6 separate regions of the Homo sapiens genome follow, and all the other regions are linked to region 1. Evidence: fine-mapped expression QTL. A gene starts in region 1. Each other region holds a variant in brackets. All regions are shown on one strand. Distances are between the middles of the regions.

Region 1 (4,081 bases):
GCGCACTCCCGAAGCTGGCCTCTCCCGAGCCGAGGAGTGGCAGTGGTCAGAGAGGCCCACATGGACTCAGACCCAAGGCTGGGACTGGAGTGAATCATCTGGAGGGCTTGCGTGTCTGCAAGGGCAACGACGCTGGAAGGAGGTGGGAAGTCTTTTGCATGGCTGCATGTCGGGCCTTCTGGGACCCCTAAACACTCTTGTGTGGACGGGAGGATGTCTGTGGGAATCCCAGAGCTGGCACTGAGGAGGAGTCTTCCGAGTGGGCGGAGGGGGATGCCTGCCAGGCCCAAGCCCTCCTGTGGGCAGCCCCTGCAGCACCCCCATTGCCCTGCTCTGTGAGTGGCTGCTGGTGGGGGGGCACAGTGGTCTGCTTGTCTCGGTCTTCTGCACTGCCACTGCCAATGGGAGCTTGGATTAGGCATGCCAGCCTCCTGACGCCCAGAGCCCATGCTCTGCCCACGTGTGTTAGTGGACGGTCCTCGTGACTGCTGGGACTGTCCTGGAGAGCAGCCCAGGACCCCTCACATGGCACAAGATGCTCTTGTGTCCAGAATGGCCTTTATTTGTTGTCAGGGACAGGGGAGGGAAGCTTCTTGGTGGAAGGGAGAGGCTGAAGAATGAACAGCCCCGGGACCACTTTCTCTGCCAGGAGGTGGCACTGGGAGAGGATAGGGACTCCGGAGGGGTGTACCGTCCTCCAGGAAGCCCTCTGCTGGGTCGGCTCCGTGCCTCTGTCTTGGGAAGTGATGGACTTGGTTGCCTTATGCTGACTGGGGTCTGTCACAGATCTTGGTTTTCCCCAGGAGTTCTGGAGGCCCAGAGCCTGGGTGCGGCACCCGGTTCATTGGGGAGGGGCATGGGTCCTGTGCCCTCCTCCTGGCCGGGCTCCACCAGGGCTAAGCTCTCATCTGGGGCTGCGGAAGTGAGCCAGGGTGGGGACAAAGCCCTGGCTGGTGGGTCTGGGCCAGTTCCAGGTACAGGGTCCAGATCCCCCCACTGCAGCAGGAGGGAGCTTCCTGTTCAAAGCCATCTGGCTCTGGGAAGGACAGTGAGGCAGGGCCATCTGCTTCCCCACTCCCTGGGGTCTCTTCCTGGCCGGGACCTGGAGCTGTGCAGCCTGGCCCAGCAGGTCCTCCCTTGCGATGTGTCCACAGGGGTGGGCCTAGGCCTCCAGCTTGCAGTGGTGCAGAGGGCTGGGGAGCAGAGGGGGCCCTGGCAACAGTGGCCAAAAGTCCTGGCGCCGCCGAGGGACTAGATTCCGCAGGGGCTGCCGCCCCCGGCCGCTGTCACTGGGGTGGGGTGGGTGGTTGTTTCTCTGCAGGCCCAGGTGATGTGGAGGGGGCACCTGGGCTGCCACACAGACCCTGGGCTGGGTCGGGCACGGGGCCTGCCTCGCCCCCAGCTCAGGGACCGCAAGAGATGTGGCCCTGGCGGCTCAGGGCGGCAGGAGGGGCGGGCCAGCCCCACCGTCTCAGGATACCGTGCTAGGGGAGGGTTTCCTCGCCAAAGGCCGTCCAGCGGCTGTGACCCCTTCGCCTGGAGCCCCAGCTTCCTCCCGGCGCCGCCCTCCCGCCCCGGCCCCCGCGGAACAAACAAGGCCCTGGCCTCGGAGCTGCCCCGCCGCCCAGCGCTCACAGGTCGTTTATTCCAAGTAAGAAAACGGAGACTGCTCGGGGCAAGCTAGCGGGGCCGAGGCCCAGGACGAGGCCGTACGCGTGTGCCTGCGTGGCCGCCTCTTTTGCAGTGACCACCAACAACGACAGAGGCGGCCCGCTGCACACGCGGGTTCCCGCCCGGACCCACGCCCTTCCCGTGGGGGACGCGGGCGGCATCGCCAGCTTGGCGCGGCCCCGGGACGCGAACGCGTGGCTTCAGCGGCTCCGTCCATGGTGTCCGCCTGCAGGGGGCGCCCCCGCGCCTGCCTCGACCGGCTCGCCCCCGTGCCGCGGACGCGCGCGCGCTGCCTCACGCGACACCCGCCCCGGCCGCCGTCCGTCGTCGCTCGCGTGCGTGCGCGTGCGTGCTGGTGCGGGCGCCGTACGTGCGCGCGCGCGGCGGCCCAGAAAGCGGCGCTGGGACCCTGAGGCGGCCGTGGTTAGGCGGCTCCCCGGCGGCTCCTCCGCGGCGGTGACGGCGACCGCACTCCCCGCTTCCCGCTCCCCGCGCTCCTCCGCCCGGGTCCGCCAGCCGAGGCCGCTCCCGAGCGTCGGAAGATGCCGGCCGTGTCCAAGGGGGACGGGATGCGGGGCCTGGCGGTCTTCATCTCGGATATCCGCAACTGTGAGTGGCGGGGGCGGCGTGGGGCCGGGGCCGGGGCCGCCGGCGGAGACGGGGTCTGGGAGCGGAGGCCCGGGGCGGGGCCTCGAGGCGGGGGTGCAGGCTGGGATGCGGGCGGGGCCCGGGGCCTGAGGGTGCGGGCGGCGCTCGGGGTCTTGGGGTACCGGGTCTGGGGGTGGGGGCCAGGGTGCGGGGTGGGGGTCCAGGGTCTGGGGGTGCGGGCGGCGCTCAGAGTCTTGGGGTATCGGGTATGGGGGTGCGGGTCAGGATGCAGAGCGGGGCCCTGGGTCTGGGGGTGCGGGGTGGGGTGTCCAGGGTCTAGGGGTGCGGGGTCTAGGGGTTTAGGGCACGGCCCTTCATCCACATCTCCACTCCCGTTTGCTGGTCCGTGCGGGGGGCTGCGGCACCACCAAGGGGGTTCCGGGCCAAGACGCCCCTCCCCAGCATGATGTCACCTTGGTCTTTCTAGTACTGGAGCGTTTAACCCAGCGTTTTCCAAAACGGCGTGGATTTTAGCTTTGGGAGCAGAAATCTGGAAATCAGTGTCTTCCCAGGAAACAGCTTTGTGACCTGGGTTCTGGAGGCTTATTAACCCCTGATTAGATCTCACCTACGACGATTAAAATGACTCATTCCCGGAGGGAATCTGGACACGAGCAGCAGTCGGGGTGTGGGATGGCCTCGCTGCCTGCTGCTCCAATCACAGACCTCGTTCTCAGCCCCGTGCCTGTCCCCTCGGGGTGGGAAAAATCCACACCAAACCGTTAAACAAGCCAGGAAGGCTGGGCCTGTTAGAAGGATGTGCAGGGTGGCTGGGTGGGTGCACCGGTCCACCAATTAATTTGACTTTGGTGTGCAGAACCTCCTCTTGGCTTTCAGAGGCCATCTCCTTATTTAATTTGAGGGAGAAACAAAGCCAGTTTCCTGTCTGCTGCGTTGATTTTTTTCCTTGTTATCCAGCAAATAGTTGACTTCATGATTTTTGTTTTTCTTTTTTTTGAGACAGGGTCTTGCTCTGGCTCTCAGGCTGGAGCGCAGTAGTTCCATCACGGCGCACTCAACCTCCCACCTCAAGTGATCCTACCACCTCAGCCTCCGGAGTCACTGGGACTACAAGCGTGCACCACCACCATGCCTGGCTGATTTTCGTGTTTTTTGTAGAGATGGGGGGGTCTCGCCATGTTGCCTAGGCTGGTCTCGAAATCCTGAGCTCAAGTGATCCACCTGTCTTGGCCTCCCAAAGTCCTGGGGTTACTGGCGTGAGCCACGGCACCCTCATAATTTTTAATGTGTATTTTGAGGGACTGTTGTGATCTTCCCTTTGAATTCTCATCTCCTTAGACGGGATGGAGGATCAGGAGGATAGTGGTTCTCCCACACTCTGTGGAAGGGTAGAGGACCATCTAACCCTTCCTGTACTCTGTTAAAAAAAAAAAAAAAAAGCATAGAGCTGGGTGCGGTGGCTCAAACCTATAGTCCCAGCATTTTGGGAGGCTGAGGCAGGTGGATCTTTTGAGCCCAGAAGTTTGAGACCAGCCTGGGCAATGTGGTAACACCCTGTCTCTACAAAAAAATACGAAAATTAGCTGGGCGTATTGGTGTACACATCTATAGTCCCAGCTACTTGGGAGGCTGAGAGAGGAGGATCACTTGACCCCAGGAGGTTAAGGCTGCAGTGAGCTGAGATCGCGCCATACTCCAGCCTGGGTGACAGAGTGAGACCTTTCTCACAAAAAAAAAAAAAAAAAAAAAAAAGGCTTAGAAACACCCTCAGATCAGCACTTTTACGAGTAGCATTTTTTCT
Region 2 (4,081 bases), 68 kb after region 1:
AGGGGTGGGAGGTACCTTAGCACAGGCTGGGGAGCAGGGCACGCGAGGCAGGGGTGGAAGCAGACATGGGGACCCTGCCAGTGAGGCCTGAGGGCCCCTGGTGCACAGCCGTGAGCTGCGGGTAGGGCTCAGAGGCAGTACATTTTGGAATGATGCCCTGGAAGTGTCACGGAGTCAGGTTGGGGTTTGGGGGTCCAGGCTCCAGGCAGGGACTTGGGGTGGGGGGGCACAGTCACCAGCACCTGAGAGGCCAGTGGCAGGGTGTGGAGAGGGGGCGGCAGGGTGTGGGGAGGGGCGGCAGGGTATTAGGGGTGCCCTCGGGAGGTGCGCGGTCTTGATGCCTGCTGGCGTTGGTGTTGGCAGCTGGCGCTGTTCGAAGGGGGCTTGGTTCCAGGCGAGGTGACTTTGGGGAGATGAGTTTGGTGTTGTACAGCCTGGCAGAGCTCCATGTGGGTGGCTGCCACGTGGGTGTGGGCTGGGCAGGTGCCTCCGGGGGGCACCCGTGAGAGTGAGCCAGAGAGGGGAAGAAGGGGAACCCCCAGGTGAGGCTCGCAGGAAAGACTGGCCAGAGCCGGAAGAAACCAGCAGAGAAGTGGCCGCCGGGAGCCCAGGGTGGCGCAGTCACTGGCCGCCGGGAGCCCAGGGTGGCGCAGTCAGAGGTCAGAGGAGTGCTGCCACCGGGAGCCTAGGGTGATGAGGTCAGAGGAGTGCTGCCGCCAGGTGCTGGGGCTTTGGGAGAGAAGGGCCCAGGTGGGAGGTGGCCTGGCTGTGGCCGTGGCCTTCTGTGCACTGGTCTCCGCCTCTTCCTGGCTTTCTTTGCTTAAGTCAGGGCATCTTAAACTTTCTGGGCTCGTGGGCTTTTTTGAGAATCGAGTTCAAGCTTCCTCCATGTCCCAAACTTTTGTAGACACATTGAGGTGCTTCTGAAACTCTCACTTTGACTTTGGACGACAGTTTGGTCTTGGGATTGCCATGGCCTGCAGGTGCCGGCCCTCAGCAGCCTGTCCCCCACAGGTGCTGAAGGTCGCCATCCTGGCTGAGAAGTACGCGGTGGACTACACCTGGTATGTGGATACCATCTTGAACTTGATCCGAATTGCTGGTGATTACGTGAGTGAAGAGGTGTGGTACCGAGTCATTCAGATCGTCATCAACCGGGACGACGTGCAGGGCTACGCGGCCAAGACTGTGTTCGAGGTATGGCCCGCAGGATGGCAGGAAGGATGGGGTGGAGGGCAGTTGCAGAAGGTGAGCAGTGAGTGGTTCCAGCCTGCCTGCGTGGAGGTGCCGAGGGCCGTTGCTGACCCCTCTTGCCCCTCAGCTCTTCCCTGAGGCTCTAGCTCCTCCACTGTTGGTGCCCCTTGCTGAGTCCCAGTTTCTTCTCACCCTAACTCTCAAACTTCTGGCTCTCTGGGGGCCACCTGAGAAAGCCGGCCTCTGTGTGTGTGAGAGCATGCTGGGGCATGCCGTGGTGGGGCCTGCCCTGTCCGTCGGAGAGGGTTAGGCCACCGGCAAGGGGTGTGCCATGAGGACGCTGGCAGAACCTCCCCAGCCAGAGCCTGTTGTGGATGCTGCAGCTCCCTCCAGGGCAGGTCAGCGTGTGGCAGCCTTGGGTTCCTTGCTGCTGACACAGGTACTGAGGGTGCTGAGGAAGGCAGGGATGGGCACTTGGACTGGGGTCTCCAGGAAGCTGAGGGGCTGGTGCTGGTGTAGGGTGCACCGCGCCAGGACGTGCCCGCCTCGCCTTAACTCTGGCACCTGGCTGCCACCCCGGCTCATTGTTTGTGCTTCGCAGGCTCTTCAGGCTCCCGCGTGCCACGAGAACCTGGTCAAAGTGGGCGGCTACATCCTGGGGGAGTTTGGAAACTTGATAGCTGGAGACCCGAGATCCAGGTGAGAGGCCCTTTGCGAGTCGGGGCTGTGTGCGCTCCGGCGGGCCTCTCGGTGGTCGGTGGCAAGAGGCGAGGCACCAGCTGGCCCTGCCGTGAGGCCTCGCAGAGCCGCTTCTGCTCCCCATCGGCGTCTTTTTGTTTTCCTTCAGTTGATAGAAAAAGCAGGGATTCTAGTAGAAAATGGAGACGTGGGGTTGATGGCTGACTTAGTGAAAGGGGCGTCTTTGCGGTGGGATCTGGAGCTGGAAGAGGGTCCCGACCAGCGGCCTCTGGTGCAGGCCAGGGGGTCTCGCCGCCGTCCCCCCCCCGCGGGGGCGTGCTGCAGCCTGCGAGGGGACGACGGTGTCCCTGTGTTGTGCCTCCC[C/G]GTCCCCAGCCCGCTGATCCAGTTCCACCTGCTGCACTCCAAGTTCCACCTGTGCAGCGTCCCCACCCGCGCGCTGCTCCTGTCCACCTACATCAAGTTCGTGAACCTCTTCCCGGAGGTGAAGCCCACCATCCAGGACGTGCTGCGCAGCGACAGCCAGCTCAGGAACGCAGACGTGGAGCTGCAGCAGCGTGCTGTGGAGTACCTGCGGCTCAGCACCGTGGCCAGCACCGACATTCTGGTAGGAGGCCCCCGCCCTTCGGGCTGGCTTGGCTGAGGGTTGGAGGCCAGGAGCTCTGACCAGTCCCACCCTGTGTTCTTTCCAAGGCGACCGTGCTGGAGGAGATGCCCCCATTCCCGGAGCGGGAGTCCTCCATCTTGGCAAAGCTCAAGAAGAAGAAGGGCCCCAGCACGGTGACAGACCTGGAGGACACCAAGCGGGACAGGAGTGTGGACGTGAACGGGGGTCCTGAGCCTGCCCCAGCCAGTACCAGCGCCGTGGTGGGTCCCTCACCTACTGTGCACCCAGACCTGTCAGGGCCTCACCCCCAAGACTTGGGACCAGCAGAGCATTTGCCTGTCAGGGAGGAGCATGTACTGAGAACCCAGGCTCTGGCTGTGGCTCTGGACACCCCGCTGTCCTGTCCTGGGGGCCACTGTCCCTGCTGGACACGCTGCTGTCCTGTCCTGGGGGCCACTGTCCCTGCTGGACGCCACGCTGTCCTGTCCCGGGGGCCACTGTCCCTGCTGGACGCCCCGCTGTCTGTCCCGGGGGCCACTGTCCCTGCTGGACGCCCCCCTGGCCTGTCCCGGGGGCCACTGTCCCTGCTGGACGCCCCGTTGTCCTGTCCCGGGGGCCACTGTCCCTGCTGCACACCCTGCTGGCCTGTCCCGGGGGCCACTGTCCCTGCTGGATGCCCCCCTGGCCTGTCCCGGGGGCCACTGTCCCTGCTGGACGCCCCGTTGTCCTGTCCCGGGGGCCACTGTCCCTGCTGGACGCCCCCCTGGCCTGTCCCGGGGGCCACTGTCCCTGCTGCACACCCTGCTGGCCTGTCCCGGGGGCCACTGTCCCTGCTGGACGCCCCCCTGGCCTGTCCCGGGGGCCACTGTCCCTGCTGCACACCCTGCTGGCCTGTCCCGGGGGCCACTGTCCCTGCTGGACGCCCCCCTGGCCTGTCCTGGGGGCCACTGTCCCTGCTGCACACCCCGCTGGCTTGTCCCGGGGGCCACTGTCCCTGCTGGACGCCCCTCTGGCCTGTCCCGGGGGCCACTGTCCCTGCTGCACACCCCGCTGTCCTCTCCCGGGGGCCACTGTGCCTGCTGGGCAAGGCACTTCCTTCAGACCGTCGTCTTGTCCAGCTCAGCTCACACATCCTCTGTGGTGCCTTGTTTTAGGGGAAGTGGCCGTCCCCTCTCCTACAGGACTGCCTCACCCAGGCAGCTGTCCTCACATGCTTTGTTGATTTAGAGAGGACCTGTCCTGCCCTGCTCTTCGAGGTTTTATGTAGTGAGTTGGGTTAGGTCTGGTTTTCCTTGTATGTGTGATGCGATGAGAATAATCCTGTAACAGAATGTGTCCTGTGGTATTTGTCAGGTGAGAAGTGTCGTTTTGAGAGTTGCGTTTTTGCTTGGCTCTGCTTGCCAGCTGTTCCCCTCTGCACTGTCAGGGAGGGCTCCTGTCGGGGTCAGGCGGGCTTTCTGTTTGTCCAGTTAGAGGACCTGTCTCTCCAGGACGCAGGTCCAGTGGTGGCAACCAGTGCTGCTACCCAGTATCGGCAGGGCTTTGTGGGGTGAGCTCCTGTGGTGGTGCCTGCCCTGGCAGTGT
Region 3 (4,081 bases), 73 kb after region 1:
GTGTGCCCATACCCCAGGCCTTTGATCACACCCAGGTTTGTCCGGCTAGGCTCAGGGTGGACTTTGGAGGGCCTGGCCTTGACTGTGTGGCTTAGGGATCAGATGGAAGCTTCTGGACCCTGGGAGTGAGAGCAGTGTGCTGCCCTCTGAAAAGGAGGATGAGGGTCCAGTGAGGTTCAGCATTTCTGTAAGGTGCCTTCTTGGAGGGAGTTCCCCCTTCAGGGCTCATTCAGTGGATTTTCTGAGTGTGGCTTCACTCCTGATGGTCAGTGGTGCCTGGCGGGTGGGTTCCTTAGGGAGGTGTCTGTGGCCGAGGCACGCAGCTCTGTTCTGAGCTGAGAGCTGTGGTGTGTGGGCACCTCCGTCCTGACTGAGAGCTGTGGTGTGTGGGCGCCTCCGTCCTGACCGAGAGCTGTGGTGTGTGGGCCCCTCTGTTCTGACCGAGAGCTATGGTGTGTGGGTGTCATTGCTATCCTGTGCTTTCCAATCTGTTCCCATTGCTCACGGGAGCCCCAGTGAGAGGCCCCTCCCTATGGGGAGACACTCCTGGCGAAGTTTTCTTGCTCAGGGTCTTCTGTATGGGCCGTGAAGGGGCCTCAGGGTGGCATCAGCACATGTGCCTTTCCCACGAGAGACAGTGGCTTTATCTTGGTGTCACATTGGCCAAAATGTCTTTTATTTAACATCATAGATGAGGCCAGGACATTTTACTTCTTCCGAGCATCCTCTTTCTGCACACAGCTCCTTGGGGGAGGCTGTGGTGTGCGTGTCCCCGGGTGTGCTGGGGAGCACAGGGGTGTGGGGATCAGAGGCTGCCTGGCTTCACATGCAGGAGCCTGGGGCCCTTGTAGGCAAAACCTTCACCCCTCAAGTTGTCCTGCTATTGGAGGGAGGAGGTGAACTGGTGTGGCCCAGGAGCCAGGCCTGCTCCCTGAGGAGGGTCTCCCAGGCCTGAGAGGATAAGGAAGATGAAGAACCTGAAGTGGGTGTTAGGACCCTACTGTCCTGGGGCCTTGCATCTGGCCTCGCTGTTACAATCTGTGGTAACGTTTCAGGTACAAATGCCTTTACTAGGGCAAAGGGCTTTCCTACTTTAGAAAGCAGTTAAAAGCCATAGATGGCTGGGCATGGTGGCTCACACCTGTAATCCCAGCGCTTTGGGAGGCTGAGGTGGGCGGATCACTTGAGGTCAGGAGTTTGAGACCAGCCTGGCCAACATGGTGAAACCCCGTCTCTTCTAAAAATACAAAAATTAGCCAGGTGTGGTGGTGTGTGCCTGTAATCCCAGCTGCTCGGGAAGCTGAGGCAGGAGAATTGCTTGAACCCAGAAGGCGGAGGTTGCAGTGAGCTGAGATTGCACCACTGCACTCCAGCCTGGGTAACAGAGTGAGACTCGGTCTCAAAAAAATAAAATAAAATAAAATAAAAGCCATAGATGTATTTGAATCAGTGCAGGAACCAGGGTAACATCTGTGATGAGATGCAGAGGAGAAACTGTCTCCATTTGGGCTGCAGGTGCATGGCCATGGCCAAGGCCGATGGCTTCCCACGCAGCTCACAGCTTTGTCAGGCTGTGGAGGCCACAGTGTTGGCGGGCGCTGTCCCCGGCGTAGGGAGCAAAGCGCCGCCTTCAGATGGTCTCATCGAGACACGCCTTGGATATTTTTGGGACTCTTCTCTGCCAGCTCCTCTGTGACCTCCCACCCTTGGAGCACATGAGACCCGTGTCGTCTTCTCTTGCAGAGGTGCTCCGTCACAAGAGCAGAGCCTGGGAGCCTGCCCCGTTTCTGACTGCCCCCCAATCCCCATTCTGACTCTCACCCGCCCCCATTCTGACCCCCCGCCCCCATTCTGACCTGCACCTTTTTTGCATAACACACTTTGTGATGCCTCATTTATCTTTGAGTAAAATTCATATATCACAAACCCACACATGTAGTTTTTTTGAAAGTACAGTGTGACACCTTAACTTTGCATTAATGTAAAATGGCATTCAGGTGGAGTCTCAGATAATTACAAACTAATTTTTTACCTTCTTAGATGTCCAGTGGAACATTCTAAAGTTACTCAAGACGAATCTTCAAGTTAGGGTGTCTTGTGTCTCTGTTTTTTGCCTGTGAAATGCCAATATCCTTGTGATAGTCAGAGCCCTCCACATCTCCAGAACGCTCTTAGCTGGGTGGGGGGTTTCTCCACCAAGAGCCCCTGGTGTATAGTGTCAAAGTGTGAGTGTTGCCAGGCTGTAGTTCAGTGGTACGATCTTGGCTCACTGCAATCTCCGCCTCCTGGTTTCAGTTCTCCTGCCTCCACCTCCTGAGTAGCTGGGATTACAGGC[G/A]TGTGCCACCACACCCAGCTAATTTTTGTATTTTTAGTAGAGACGGGGTTTCACCATGTTGGCCAGGATGGTCTCAATCTTCTGACCTTGGGATCTGCCCCCCTCGGCCTCCCAAAGTGCTGGGATTACAGGTGTGAGCCACCGTGCCAGGCTGGGTGTCCTTTTTATAGGGAGCATCTGAGTCCCTCTGGTGCACAGGCTGCTGTGGGGCAGGACCCGTGGAGCCCAGAGCAGGTCTGAGCTCCCAAAGTCAGGCTGCTGGGGCATTGCTGGGGAGCCTGCTGCCCTGTTGGATGGGTGAGCATGCGATGGACTGAGCTGCTGCTTGTGCCCTGTTGTGAGAGTTTAATCATGAGATCATAGGCGCTCTTTCCTTGTGCCTTTGCCCCAGGATCAAAGAGCAATTACTGGGGCCGGGTGCGGTGGCTCATGGGAGGCCGAGGTGAACGTATCACCTGAGGTCAAGAGTTCGAGACCAACCTGGCCAACATGGTGAAACCCTGTCTCCACTGAAAATACAAAAATTAACTGGGCGTGATGGCGGCCACCTGTAATCCCAGCTACTTGGGAGGCTGAGGCAGGAGAATCGCTTGAGGTGGAGGTTGCAGTGAGCCCACACCAGTGCACTCCAGCCTGGGCAATAGAGTGAGACTGTCTCAAAAAAAACAAAAACAGAGACAGTCTCTTGCTATGTTGCCCAGGCTAGTTTTAAACTCCTGGACTCAAGCAGTCTTTCTGTCTCAACCTTCCAAAGTGCTGGGATTACAGGTGTGGGGCACCATGCCCAGCCAAAAAGCAATTATTTTTTAAAAGTATCCGTTCTGTAGACTTTTAATGATTAATAATGATTTAGTAATAATTTAATGATTAATAATGCACCCGAGTAAGTTATTTGCTTTTTCATCTTTGGAAGCTTACTTTCTTATTGGACAGTTGGCAGTAACATGCATGATCTTAGTTCTTTCTTTTTTTTTTTTTTTTTTGAGATGGAGTCTCGCTCTGTCGCCCAGGCTGGAGTGCCGTGGTGCGATCTCGGCTCACTGCAAGCTCCGCCTCCCGGGTTCACACCATTCTCCTGCCTCAGCCTCCCGAGTAGCTGGGACTACAGGCGCCCACCACCACGCCCGGCTAATTTTTTTTGTATTTTTTAGTAGAGATGGGGTTTCACCGTGTTAGCCAGGGTGGTCTCGATCTCCTGACCTCGTGATCCGCCCACCTCGGCCTCCCAAAGTGCTGGGATGACAGGTGTGAGCCACCGCGTCTGGCCTTTTTTTATGTCTTTCATGGCAAAATTTTTTTGAGAATTTTTTTCATTCAAATAGCATTTGTGAAAAAATGTAGGGTGCCTTAGTGAAATTATGACTGATGTTTTAAGTGCAGTTATCTTTAGGCTGGAGTCTGGGATATACTCAGGAAGTGGCTGTTAGCCCTCACTCTCTGGTCACTCACTGAGTTGTGTGCCACCTGCCCCAGCCACTGGGAGTGCATGGATGCCAAGGGGGTGCCATGGGGGAGGACGTGCAGGCGTGAGCTGCCTGGGGTTGGCCAGGCCAGGGAGGCTCTCTGCTGATGCTCTCCTTCCTTCTCTTCCAGTCTACGCCTTCTCCGTCGGCAGACCTGCTGGGTCTCGGGGCTGCCCCCCCTGCCCCCGCGGGCCCCCCACCCTCCTCCGGCGGCAGCGGGCTGCTCGTGGACGTGTTCTCAGACTCGGCCTCTGTGGTCGCGCCTCTCGCTCCTGGCTCCGAA
Region 4 (4,081 bases), 27 kb after region 1:
GGAGTTCAAGACCAGCCTAGCCAACATGGTGAAACCCCGTCTGTACTAAAATACAAAAATTAACTGGGTGTGGTGGTGTGCACCTGTAATCCCAGCTTCTTGGGAGGCTGAGGCACAAGAATCACTTGAACCTGGGAAGCGGATGTTGCAGTGAGCCGAGGTCATGTCACTGTACTCCAGCCTGGGTGACAGAGTGAGACTGCATCTCAAAAAAAAAAAAAATTGATGAAGTATTAAAATATATATTTCTTCCAAATAGATTTACGAATGTTCAATAAGCATATAAAAGCTATCAGAAAAATGCATATCAAAATCACAATGAGATACTGCATCACACTTACCCAGATGGCTGTAATAAAAAAGATGAGGCCAGGCACTCCCAGCTGTAATTCCAGCACTTTGGGAGGCCGAGGTGGGTGGATCACCTGAGGTCAGGAGTTTGAGACCAGCCTGACCAATATGGTGAAACCCCACCTCTACTAAAAATACAAAAATTAGCTGGGCGTAGTGGCAGGCGCCTGTAATTCCAGCTACTTGGGAGGCTGAGGCAGGAGAATTGCTTGAACCTGGGAGGTGGAGGTTGCAGTGAGCCGAGATCGTGCCACCACACTCCAGCCTGGGTGACAGGGCGAGACTCCGTCTCAAAAAAAAAAAAAGAACGTGTGAGTTTATCCCTGGTGATGGGCACAGTAGCTTCTCGTGGCTGGACCAGTGCTTTGCTCCTTATTTCACACTTCTCATCACAGCTCTTTCATTGATGGCACACCCATTTGAAGAAGAGAAACCGAGGCAGGTTGCGGTTAAGTTGATAGCCCAGGGTCACGTAGCTAGTAAAACATGGAGTGACATTCCAGTCCAGGCCTGATTTCAGAGTTTGCTTGGCTGACTGCTGTGCTAACCACCTTAATAGTAATTTTAGCAATTATAGCTTCCTTCAAAAATTCTTGGGCTTGGTCAATTTTGGGCTTTTGGGTTACTCGGCGGAATCACTTTATTTCTTTGAGACAGAGTCTCACCTTGTTGCCTAGGCTGGAGTACAGCGATGTCTGTCCTGGCTCACTGGAGTGTTGACTTCCTGGGCTCAGGTGATTCCCCCCACCTCAGCCTCCCTAGTAGCTGGGACCACAGGCATGCACCACCACACCTAATTTTTTAAAAAATTATTTATGGAGACCAGGTCTCCCTATGTTGCCTAGGCTGGTCTCGAGCTCCTGGACTCAAAACAGCCCTCCCACTTCAGCCTCCCAAGGTGCTGGGATTATAGGCGTGAGCCACTGCCCAGTCTGAAATCACTTTATATACAGACTAAAACTCTGTAGACCAAGTTTTGCTGCACATTGCAAGGACAGAAGATTTTGGTACTTTGGTATTTTATAATCATCTGTCATAGGCTCCTTTACTATTTTTTGTGGAACTTGGGCTGTTCCCAGAATACTAATCCTCTCTGTTGATTAGTTCAGCCTGTAAACAAGAAATCATTAACCAGCATGCTGTTCCTGAAGAATGACCAGGGACAATAATTGTAAAAATTCAAGAGCTTTTATCCAAGCCTGCCCCTATAGAGTGTGTTCTTTGCTACTTCATGGAATGCAAATTGTAACTTGCTTTTGCCAGTAGCTATGGCATGTCCAGGTTACTCATTAGCCACCAGAGCTCCTAAGTTCACTGCGAGAATTCCCTGATGCAAGTACAGTACCCTTAGTGCTGATGGGCTGGCTGCA[T/G]TTCAGACAGGAATAGTGCAGGATGACTGTGGCCAGCGTCTCTTTAACAAAGATCAGACTGTGTGTGGGGCTGGGCTTGTTGCTGTGGGTCAGTTACTCTTTAACAAAGATCAGACTCTGTGTGGCTGGGCTTGTTGCTGTGGGTCAGTTACTCTTGCTCATGCTTTACCCTTTCAGAATTCAGCTCCTCCCCGCTTCTCCTCAAGCTAATTTATCTAAAAAGATAAGATTTTTTTGCTAGATCTGTTCCCGGCACGGTGGGGTGGTTGAAGTCCTCCTGTGAGGCCCTCTGCCTTATGGAGATCAGTGCAGTGTCAGTGGCACGAATTGGTGCCTGGCCAGGAGCACGCTCTGCTCCTTTACAGGAGAGCCCCTGACAGGCACTGGAGGGCTCAGATTGTTACCTGCGTCCGTCATGACTGCAGGGGTGCTGCGTTGATCATGCAGCTTCTACTAGAGCGTTTTTGGTAAATTTGGGACATGGTAGTTGACTTGAATGTGTCAGTCTTGCCTGCAGGTCATCATCCGTCATCTCAGCCATGGTCGTGCTGGATTGTCTTTCTTGTTTTTGAGACAGCCTCTCTCTCTGTCACCCAGTCGCCCAGTCTGGAGTGCAGTGGTGTGATCTCGGCTCACTGCAACCTCTGCCTCTCGGGTTCAGGCAATTCTTCCACTTCAGCTTCCCCAGTAGCTGGGATTACAGGCGCACGCCACCATGCCCAGCTAATTTTTGTGTTTTTACTAGAGACAGGATTTCACCATGTTGCCCAGGCTGGTCTCAAACTCCTGACTTCAAGTGATCCACCTGCCTCAGTCTCCCAAAGTGCTGGGATTATAGGCGTGAGCCACTGCGCCTAGCCTGAATGCGTATTTTTATGTGAAATTAGTTTTCCTGAACTGTCAGAGGAGGCATGGTCTGGGTGGCTTTTCTACCGTAAGAGCCCCCCCCCCCCATTGTCTTCACACAGTGGCCTGCCTGGCAGCTGCAGTTGGAAGTCCCTGGCTCCGTCCTGGCTCCGTCTGCCTCCGTCTGCCTCCGTCTGCCTGCTGTCCCTGCACCTCCCCTTTTTCCTGCTTTTGCGTCGTCTCTGCTCAGTAGGGGCGCTGGGCCAGGTCACTCCATCCCTGGTTCTTGCATCATGCTCAGCCCTCTGTGGATACTGGGGCTGCTTAGGCTCTCCTGTCCTCAGGTCTGGCCGAGACGTGACACTACTCTTCTCTCTACCTTCTCTCTTTTTTTTTTTTTTTGAGATGGAGTCTTGCTCTGTTGCCCAGGCTGTAGTGCAATGGCGCGATCTCGGCTCACTGCAACCTCCGCCTCCTGGGTTCAAGCGATTCTTCTGCCTCAACTTCCTGAGTAGCTGGGATTGCAGGCGCCTGCCACCATGCCTGGCTAATTTTTGTATTTTTAGTAGAGACGAGGTTTCACCATGCTGGCCAGGCTGGTCTTGAACTCCTGACCTCAGGTGATCCGCCCGCCTCAGCCTCCCAAAGTGCAGACGTGAGTCACTGTGCCTGGCCTCTCTACCTTCTCTTGCACAGACATGATGCCGTGAGGTTGTACGGCCGTTGGTGGCTTTCCTTTTGAGGGAGCTGGAGCTCAGAGGCACAGCAGAATGAGTCAAAGGCTGCACTTGGATTCCCACCTCACTTGGATTCCCACCTCACGTGCTGGCCCCAAAGTTCACTCTTGTCATCACCTTCCATGCTTCTCCCCCTCCTCAGGGGCTGGCCTGCCCTCGTTTTAAAGTGTGTGTGTATGCGTATATTTGTATTTATGCATGTGTGTGTACATGTGTGTATTTGTGTGTGTGTATGTATTTGTGTTTATGTGTATGTATGTATATGTGTATATATGTTGTATTTGTGTTTATATTTGTGTATATATGTTGTATTTGTGTTTGTGTACGTGTGTATTTCTGTGTATCTGTGTATTTGTATTTATGTGTGTTTGTAAATGTGTGTATATGTATATTTGTGTGTGGCGTGTACATTTGTGTATTTGTGTGTATTTGGTTTATGTGTGCTTGTACGTGTATTTGTGTGTATATATGTGTATTTGTGTTTGTATAAATGTGTATTCATGTGTGTTTGTAAATGTGTGCATGTGTGTATTTGGTGTGTGTGTGTGTGTATTTGTGTGTGTGTGTGTTGAAAATTGGGCAATTAAAAGCAAGCTGTGGATGGGAAGCTGGAACTTGTCTCTGTTTCTGTCCCACAGAGGAGGGGGGTTAACTGCCTGTTTCTCCTGGTGGTTACCTCTATAACTCTACATTATGTGCTGTTTGTTTTAGTTTGTGGTTTCACAACCTTATATAAAATCTGTAGATTCCGTTTAGGAAAGTTGATTTAGCTCATGT
Region 5 (4,081 bases), 100 kb after region 1:
TGGCCAGGATGTACTCGCAGTTGCCGTCGAATACGAAGCGCTGGCCGTCGAAGGTGATGACGTGGCCCTCCCCGTAGAGGGTGCAGGTGGATGGGCAGTGGGTGCCCTGCTGACAGGCCCACCTCCCCCTTGAGCAGGAGCTGTGGAGACAGCAGGTGTGGGTGGTGGGCCTGCGGCCCTCCTGCCATACTGGGTGTGGTCCCTGGAGAGGCCAGACTGCACCTCTGGACGCCCCCGCCTCTGGGACAGCCCCACCCCGGGCAGCCTCCGCCTGCCCCAGATGGCCCCAGGAGCCCAGGGCGTCTGAAGCGAGGCTTTGTCTCACCAGGTCCTGCAGTCAGTGTGGAGCTCAGCTCCTCCAGGGTAGGAGACCCCCGAGAACTCACATGGGCACTCCTCGGGGGGCACACACTGCCCGTCGGCATTCTCGTAGAGGCCCTCGGCGCAGACACAGCCAGGCTCACACTTGGTGGGCACCTGGAGGGAGGCAGGTCAGCAGCTCCTGGGAGGGTGGCCTCAGCCAGCTGCTGCCCAGCCCTGGGCCCCTCTGAGACTGCCCGGCGTGTCTCCCAGGTCCTCTCCCTGAATACAGCCCTGCTCTGTGGCCTTTGTGGGCAGCTGGGCTTACTGCCTTAGCAAAGCTTCCCCCACCTCGTGGAAGGTCCTGGGACCCAGTGCACACGGCTGGGCTGCTGTACCCACTCCCACACATGGGCAGCCCACCCTCCCCGAGCTGGTGCCCACTGTCCTTAGGGAGCCCTGCAGACGAGCCCCCGGGGCCTCCAGCTGCCTGGCCACAGGGCCGCTTCCACCTCGTGGCCAGCCCCAGGCACCCGCTGCAGGGCAGAATGCGGCCAGGTCTCCCGGAGTTCTGTGGAAACCCCCTCATGGTTCAGCTGGGGCCCGGGCATTGTCCCTGCTCCTCGCGCGCCCCCTTACGCAGGCAACACCGGTGGCCAGCATCTGGCATGTGGGGGCACAGGCTGCCCCAAACTTGTTCTCGGAGGACTGGCTGCAGGACTTGAAGGTCTTAGGGGCCTGGCAGGAGGCTGCAGGAAAGAGGGGTGCGCGGTCAGGACACTCAGAGGAAGCCGGGGCCCCTCACAGTCCCAGCCTGCGGCCAGCGCTGCTGTACGTACCCAGGAACATCTGTGGCCGCTGCGGGCAACTCAGCCGCCCGTTGATGCAGTGGCTGCAAGAGAGAGGCTGCGTGAGACCCCGGGACCTGGCAGGGACCCCCCGCCTGGCCCCTGCCCGGTCCCTCACCAGGTGATGCCGTTGATGACAGTGGACTGCTCGGCCAGGATGAACTTGTAACCCTCCAGTATGCACGGGCACTGGGCCTTGCGCACACACTCGCCCTTTTGGTTCAGGTAGGTGCCATCGGGGCAGTTGCAACCGTCCACGGGCACGGCGCTGTGGTGGCACTCGGTGGCACGGTCCGACAGCGACAGGCAGGTGCGCTCACAGGCTTGGCTGTTGTAGCTGAAGGTGGTGTTACCCGTGCAGGGGATGGCTGTGGGGGACCCGGGCATCAGACTCTCCGGGAGGGGGCGGCCGGGAGGGCAATCTCGGGTTCCCCTGCCTGCCGGGCACTGCAGAGCCTCAGAGCTTGGGGTCCCAGGACACCCCCTCGTGAGCCCAGCCTGCCGTGACCCCGCTTAAGCCCCGTCGGGCACTCACTGCAGTTGTCCACACTGCTTCTCCAGCCCCAGAGCAGGACGCCCCGCAAGGAGCAGGCGTGTACGTAGTCGCCCAGGGCGGCACAGATGTGGGGAAAGGTCTCCTCGTAGTTGCAGGCCTGGTACACGCACCTCTGCGGGCAGAGAGCCAGCATGGGCTGGTGGCAGGCACCCTGCCCTGGGGACATGGGGGTCCCAAACCTATGCCCTTGGGTGCCTGAGACCTTGTCAGCCACCACAGCCTCCCCTGCAGCCCTCCCAAGACGCCCTCGGGCCCTCACCTTGTAGAAGGGTGCAGGGTTCACTGTGGCGTGGCACCTCTCGAACACCGTGCCTGTCCTCAGCAGCATGGAGCAGTGGGTCTCTGCACACACCTCTGGGGATGACAGGCCCGGGCGTGAGTCCCGGCCCCTCCCATTCCAGCTACGGCTCCTCCCAGGGACCCCCCACCCTGGCAGCTGGGCCTGTGGTCCAGTCCAGGGGTCTGTCAGAACTGTGGGCGCTGGGGGGGCAGCCAGGGGAGTGGGGGGCCGGACACTCACTGTTGAGCTGGCTCATGGAGCAGGGGTCAGTCTCACGCTCCAGAGCGGCCGGACAGTTCCCCGCCCGCCAGGAGTCCACAAACAGCGAGGCGGTGCCCTCGGCGATACCCATGCTAGTGGTGAAGTCATCCGTTGTGTCCCCGTTGAAGTTGC[C/T]GCAGAGCCCTGAGCCGGCGGGGCGTGAGCTCGACTTGAACCCATCCCTCCTGCACCCATTCCTGCCCACACGCCCTGGAGCTCCCGTCCTTCCTCTAACAGCACCCTGGGTGAGAGGCTGCGTGGGCCACACGTGCCTGTTACCCCTGGGGGCTCCCCGGACACAGAGGGTTGTGTGAACCTCTCTTGGACCTTTCTCCTCCCCTGGTCATGGCCAGACCCTGTAGGGATGAGGCAACAGGGCCACCTGGAGAGGCAGGGACTCACCTCTGGTCTGACCTCTGAACTGGGGCCCAACAGTGACATAGGCCTGGAAGATGGGGCGCAGCTGGACCACGAGCTCCAGCCCGAAGCTGGTGGCCATCTGGAGGTGGGTGGACGTCTGCCTGAAGACCGTGATGTTGCCTGCAGGACGCAGTGCTCAGTGGGCCGTCTGGGCTCCCTCCCCACCCACTGCAGCCCGCCCCGAAGGCACAACTCTGGGGGGCCACAGACTGGGCCAGGACGTACGAGTCTTGTATGGCAGCCACTTGGCTTCTCCGTTGTTGGTGACCACCTCGTCCTGAGAGATCACAATTTTGTCCTGGAGAGAGGGTGGCCTGAGTCAGGGTGCAGGCACCAGGGAGCGGAGCCCTGCTGGCAGGGATGGGCGCAGGAAAGGCCTTACCTGCCTGGAGAGGTAGACCACAGCCACCAGGGAGGTCTCGGAGTGTGAGACGCCGGACTTGTCGTACACAGCCATGAGGGCACCGTCCTCGGGAAGCTGGGGGCTCTGCGAGGGGGCGGGGCTCAGACACGGGTGGGGTCACCGGGAGCGCCCCTCCCCACGGGCCACAGGGCTCGTCCTACCTGGAGGAGGATGTAGGTGCAGGTGCCGTGGAAGCGGTAGGGCCTGGCGTCAAATGTGGTAACAAAGGAGCCACCTTCCAGGGAGCAGTGTCCGGGGCACGGCCGCTCCGTGCACACCCAGCGGCCCAGGGTGCACCGGCTGTGGGTGGGCGTGGGGGTAGCGGCATGGTGGGCAGGGCCGCTGGAGCCAGACAGCACACCCCTGCCTGCCCTAGGCCAGTGGAACCCCTGCCGGCCGGCCAGAGCCCCCTCCGGCGCCTCACTCACCAGGTTTGGCAGGCAGCTATTGTGACCTCCCCGGGGGCATACATGGCGCCGTGGAGCACACAGGGGCACTGGGTGACGGGCACGCAGGTGTGGTTATTGGAGAGGTCATTCAGGACCGTACCTGCAGGAGAGGGTCTTCTTGGGGCTTGGGTGGGACTGACTGCCTCCCACTCTCCCCTCCCTGGCTCCAGGGAGACGCCCCCTCCAGCCTGGCTCCAGGGAGACGCCCCCTCCAGCCTGGCTCCAGGGAGACGCCCCTCCAGCCTGGCTCCAGGGAGACGCCCCCTCTAGCCTGGGCCATGACCTCTCTCCAGCTGCACTTGCATTCGCAACTCTATGTCAGGCCCTGGGCGTGCACAGCCCCTCGTGCCAATGTGCCCGGCCCAGGTTCCTGGTGAGTGGTGGCCTCCAGCAGGCAGGGACGTGTAACTGTCCCTTGGGCCCGGCTCAAACCCTGCCTTCCCTCGGCAGCTCCTAGACCGCAGTGAGCAGCCCTCACCGCCCGTGGGTTTGCAGGGGTGGCCGTGGCTGGGGGACCTGCAGGCTGTAAGCGTCCAGGCGGGAAAAGCCTGTCCCAGGGCAAGAGGC
Region 6 (4,081 bases), 43 kb after region 1:
CGTTGCCTCAGACACCTGATGCTCCGTCCGTGCTGTGCTGTTTCGTTTTATTTTTTTATTTTATTTTATTTTTTTGAGATGGAGTCTCGCTCTGTCACCCAGGCTGGAGTGCAGTGGCGCGATCTCGGCTCACTGCAACCTCTGCCTCCCGGGTTCATGCCATTCTCCTTCCTCAGCCTCCCGAGTAGCTGGGACTACAGGCGCCCGCCACCACGCCCGGCTTATTTTTGTATTTTTAGTAGAGACAGGATTTCACCGTGTTAGTCAGGATGGTCTCTATCTCCTGACCTCATGATCCTCCTGCCTCAGCCTCCCAAAGTGCTGGGATTACAGGCGTGAGCCACCATGCGCGGCCCTGTTTCATTTTTATAGTAACCTGCTGAGAAAGTTGGGCTCAGAGAGGTTAAGGAATACGTCTGAGACCACAAGACAAGCAAGTGGCTGCATCTTTCAGACTGGAGCCCAAACTTAATCGTGATCCTTTTATGGTTTAGGATGAGGTTTTCCAGCCATCTCTCCTCTGATCTGCACAAACCAAGGAGACAGATATTACTGTTATCCTCTGCCTTTTATAGCTCAGAATATTAAAGTTCAACTCAACATTTTGAAATTACTAGAATAAAAAAGTAATTCTAGCCTAGTACTGAAACCAGCATTTTGAAGACTGTATCAGTCTGGGTCCTTTCAGGAGGGATAAACTTCACAGTGGCACCTGCCAGGGGAGCTGGCGGGCTCACCTGCCACCTGCCCCACCGAGATGGGTGAGGGTGTGGAGCGAGCATTGCTGCTTGTTTCCTGTGGCCCTGGGTTAGGCCAGGAATCCACGTGCTGCCACATGAGCAGCGGGCCGAGCACTGTGGCTTTCTCCTCGCGCTGGCGACTTCCGCTGCCCCTCACGGTGCTTATGCAACAGGGGTGGTGTGCCCAGGGGAGTGCTCTGTGACATCTCTGGGAGGCCCAGAGGTGATCCTGCATCACCCTCACTGACCAGTGGGCTCAGCTTCTAAAGGTGGGCCTAAGTTTCCCAGCACCCGGGAGCTCTAGAGCAGCTCTTCGTCTGGGGTCCCGCGGGAGCAGAGGCTGGTCGGCTCCTCTCGGAGAGAGCCTGTCTCCGTCTCCGCCCCTGTTCCCATCCCCGTCTCCATCCCCGTCCCCATCCCTGTCCCACAAAACTCAGCCCAGTCGGGCCGCTGGTCCTCTCCCCTGTCAGTTATTTTTTCCTTTGAGAGGTGCTTTGAGTAACAGGGAAGTCTCCGGAGGGAGGAGGAGGTCAAGCAGTATTTTTGGCTGTGGTTGTCCAAGGCGGCTTCCAGCGGGTGATGGAATCTGGGCTGGGTAGGAGACACGGTGCTGGGGCTTCCCAGTGGAGGATCTCTGCTGCGCAGCCCGTGCTCAGCTGTGTGTGCCCTCCTGCACAAACAGGGCACGGAGAACGTGTCTGCTGGGACCCCTTGGGCACAGCAAGCAGATAAGTGGGTCGGGGCCGGGGGAGGGAGGAACCAGGTCGGGTCTGCTTTTATTTATATCATCTGGTCTTTTAAATTATGTTAATTTGCCGCTGACAAGGAGGGGGGTTTCTCATGAGCTCCTCAGAGTGCAGCATGCAGCTGACTGGCCGACTGGTGATGCACCGTTCCCCAGGAAATGTGGCCGGTCTGTATTCTACACAGTTGAGGTCGTCCGTGGAGGTGTGAGCGCCCCA[G/C]CCCTTCACAAGAAGGGGGCCAGAGCGGCTGTCGCAGCTGGGCTGTCTTCCCAGCCTGCGTTCCTTCACGCTGTGGCAGCAGAGTCTCTGTGAGACTCGGCCTGCACAAGGCCACCTTTCTCGCTCGCCTCCACAGCCTGCTGGAGGCTGGCTCTGAGGGACACTCCCTCACCTCTCAGGTGGGATAGAAACTCCTGGCAATGTAGAACAGCCCTTTTTTTTTTTTTTTTTTTTTTTTTTTGAGATGGAGTTTTGCTCTTGTTGCCCAGGCTGGAGTGCAATGGTGTGGTCTTGGCTCACCGCAACCTCCGCCTCCCAGGTTCAAGCAATTCTCTGCCTCAGCCTCCCGAGTAGCTGGGATTACAGGCATGCACCACCACGCCTGGCTAATTTTGTATTTTTACTAGAGATGGTGTTTCTCCATGTTGAGGCTGGTCTCGAACTCCTGACCTCAGGTGATCCACCTGCCTCGGCCTCCCAAAGTTCTGGGATTACAGGCGTGAGCCACCGTGCCGGGCCCAGAATGGCCCTTTTTTTAAGGGTTGGTTTTATATTTTGGAATTTTATATTCTGCCAATTACATGTTTTGAACCTGCCCTGCCATGATCCCTTGTGAGGGGCTCAGACAAACTGCGATGAGGCAGAGAAACAGAAGCCCTAGGGGCCGTCGCGTGTGGGCCTTGTTTTCATGACCAGCTGATTTGCCCTAGAATGGCTATGAAGTGGCAGATAATTTAGACTGTGTTCATATGCCTAAATTAAACTGATTTCAAAGACAAGCTTGATGGTTGAAGGCAGGGTTTGCAAGTTCCATCACAGCAGGGCCCTCTGTGGGATTTTGGCTGGTCGGAGTGAGGCCCTGTGAGGGCCAGCTGGGCTGCACCTGCCCAGGGTTGTCGTGGGAGGGTAGAACTCTTGTTGCCAGATGTTCTGGTGCCTGTTTTTAAAAGGGAAATAAAAAACTTGGACTCTCATGAGTACCATGAGTTTAGAAAGGTTATTCATGCTCAGCAGCGTCTGCACTGCACCTGCCTGGGCCCGGCCACCCCTCTCCTGGAGGCTTGTCCGTGCTGCCTGCTGTACTGCTGCACTGCCCTCTGCTCTCCCCTCTCCCCTGCCTCTGCCCGCCTGGAATAAAACCTCTTCCCCACCTTTTCTGTAGGTGACAAGGCTCTTGATGGCTATAGTAAAAAAAAGTACGTCTGCAAGTTGCTCTTCATCTTTCTCCTTGGTCATGACATTGACTTTGGACACATGGAGGCTGTGAACCTGCTGAGTTCAAACAGATACACGGAAAAGCAGATCGTGAGTATCGCTGCAGGTGGAGACGGCAGAGGATGGCGTGGGCCTGGCAGGACTGAGGCCCGGTGCCCGTGTAGGGCCGCTGCTTCCTTCTCTGCCCACAGCTGACGTGAGCCACGTGGGTCTGCTGCAGATGGAGACGCGTGCCCAGTCCTTGTTAGCACCTGCTGCCAACACCCTGCGGGCCCCCTTCCCGCCCAAGCTGGGTGTTCTTCAGGAAGCCCTGATGCCCTCACAGGGTTCCTCCTCCTGCATGCGGTTTTCCTGATGAGGTGGCCATGCCTTTTCCTCCTTTCTTTGCAACCTCCCTTACGGCGAGTTTCAGGACTGCCCGGTTGGTCTGGAGAGTGCCGCACGCGGCCCAGCGTTTGATGTGGTTGGTGCTCTGTGCCCATGAGGTCGGCCTCCAGAGGAGGGGAGGATGTCTCCCTGACACAGTGCCTTGTTGACGCACTGTCCCAAGTAGACCCGTCCCGTGGTCCCTTGGACAGCTTTGTTTCTGCAGTAGGCGCTGGAGGCACATGGCTGGGTCTTGGTGCGGAGGGTGCTCACCCCACCATCTCCCCAGCCCTTGCCGGGCTGGTGCACAGTGTCCTGTCACTCTACTTTTGAAGTCTTCTTGGGCTCTGCACGTTGAGCTGTGTAGTCTCTTGCAGTCACATTATTTCTATGTTTTCCCTGGTGGTATAAAGTAATATTTTCTTCCATTTGTCAAAAAATTTAACTTAGAGAAATTAAGAGAGACTGTAGATGTCTTGGGGTTTTGATAAGTATTGGTGTTTATTCAAGCATTTGTGGAGTGCCTGTGGTGTGTTGGGGGGATGGGGGATTAGCCTTGAGGACGGAGGCACAGGGACTGGAACTTGGGCCTGCCCTTGTCCTGGGGGAGATGGGTGTCACATGGCTCCACAGACATAGAAGTTGAAAGGATTTGAGAGAGGGAGTGGAGGTGGGTGTGTTGAGCTGAGGCTGGAGGGAGGGGAAGTTAACTGGGGGCTGAGGGTGGGAGGAGCAGGGAGAGCAGAGCAGGTGGTGCCTGGCAGTGGCCTGGGCGTGCGAGCGCAGGGCTGAAAGGGC

The links. PIP is the estimated chance that this variant, and not a neighbour inherited with it, causes the effect.
Region 2: its variant is fine-mapped to the expression of AP2A2 in whole blood (TOPMed, PIP above 0.99). The same link has a PIP of 0.9 or more in blood mononuclear cells and gastroesophageal junction.
Region 3: its variant is fine-mapped to the expression of AP2A2 in whole blood (TOPMed, PIP above 0.99).
Region 4: its variant is fine-mapped to the expression of AP2A2 in whole blood (INTERVAL, PIP above 0.99).
Region 5: its variant is fine-mapped to the expression of AP2A2 in whole blood (INTERVAL, PIP above 0.99).
Region 6: its variant is fine-mapped to the expression of AP2A2 in whole blood (TOPMed, PIP 0.99).

The regions. Positions count from the first base shown.
Region 1 is chr11:923,809-927,889 of GRCh38, forward strand. AP2A2 (adaptor related protein complex 2 subunit alpha 2) reads left to right here and starts at 2,062. Exons shown (of 22, transcript NM_012305.4): 1 at 2,062-2,280. The coding sequence starts at 2,214. RefSeq lists a silencer at 1,874-2,413.
Region 2 is chr11:991,489-995,569 of GRCh38, forward strand. AP2A2 (adaptor related protein complex 2 subunit alpha 2) reads left to right here. Exons shown (of 22, transcript NM_012305.4): 11 at 1,015-1,197; 12 at 1,796-1,893; 13 at 2,266-2,497; 14 at 2,584-2,757. Among named protein-coding and RNA genes, the nearest start is that of MUC6, 43 kb to the right of the region's middle. RefSeq lists an enhancer at 2,796-3,320. The variant C/G (reference allele first, on the strand shown) is at 2,257.
Region 3 is chr11:996,504-1,000,584 of GRCh38, forward strand. AP2A2 (adaptor related protein complex 2 subunit alpha 2) reads left to right here. Exons shown (of 22, transcript NM_012305.4): 15 at 3,929-4,081. Among named protein-coding and RNA genes, the nearest start is that of MUC6, 38 kb to the right of the region's middle. The variant G/A (reference allele first, on the strand shown) is at 2,336.
Region 4 is chr11:950,884-954,964 of GRCh38, forward strand. The region is part of intron 1 of AP2A2 (adaptor related protein complex 2 subunit alpha 2); the gene reads left to right. Among named protein-coding and RNA genes, the nearest start is that of AP2A2, 27 kb to the left of the region's middle. RefSeq lists enhancers at 3,100-3,708, 3,816-4,081. The variant T/G (reference allele first, on the strand shown) is at 1,722.
Region 5 is chr11:1,026,002-1,030,082 of GRCh38, forward strand. MUC6 (mucin 6, oligomeric mucus/gel-forming (gene/pseudogene)) reads right to left here. Exons shown (of 33, transcript NM_005961.3): 9 at 3,494-3,614; 10 at 3,227-3,365; 11 at 3,045-3,149; 12 at 2,888-2,960; 13 at 2,645-2,782; 14 at 2,225-2,386; 15 at 1,964-2,058; 16 at 1,684-1,816; 17 at 1,267-1,516; 18 at 1,140-1,192; 19 at 940-1,049; 20 at 326-477; 21 at 1-140. Among named protein-coding and RNA genes, the nearest start is that of MUC6, 8.7 kb to the right of the region's middle. The variant C/T (reference allele first, on the strand shown) is at 2,378.
Region 6 is chr11:967,305-971,385 of GRCh38, forward strand. It overlaps AP2A2 (adaptor related protein complex 2 subunit alpha 2), which reads left to right. Exons shown (of 22, transcript NM_012305.4): 3 at 2,865-3,007. Among named protein-coding and RNA genes, the nearest start is that of AP2A2, 43 kb to the left of the region's middle. RefSeq lists enhancers at 2,563-3,064, 3,065-3,564. The variant G/C (reference allele first, on the strand shown) is at 1,703.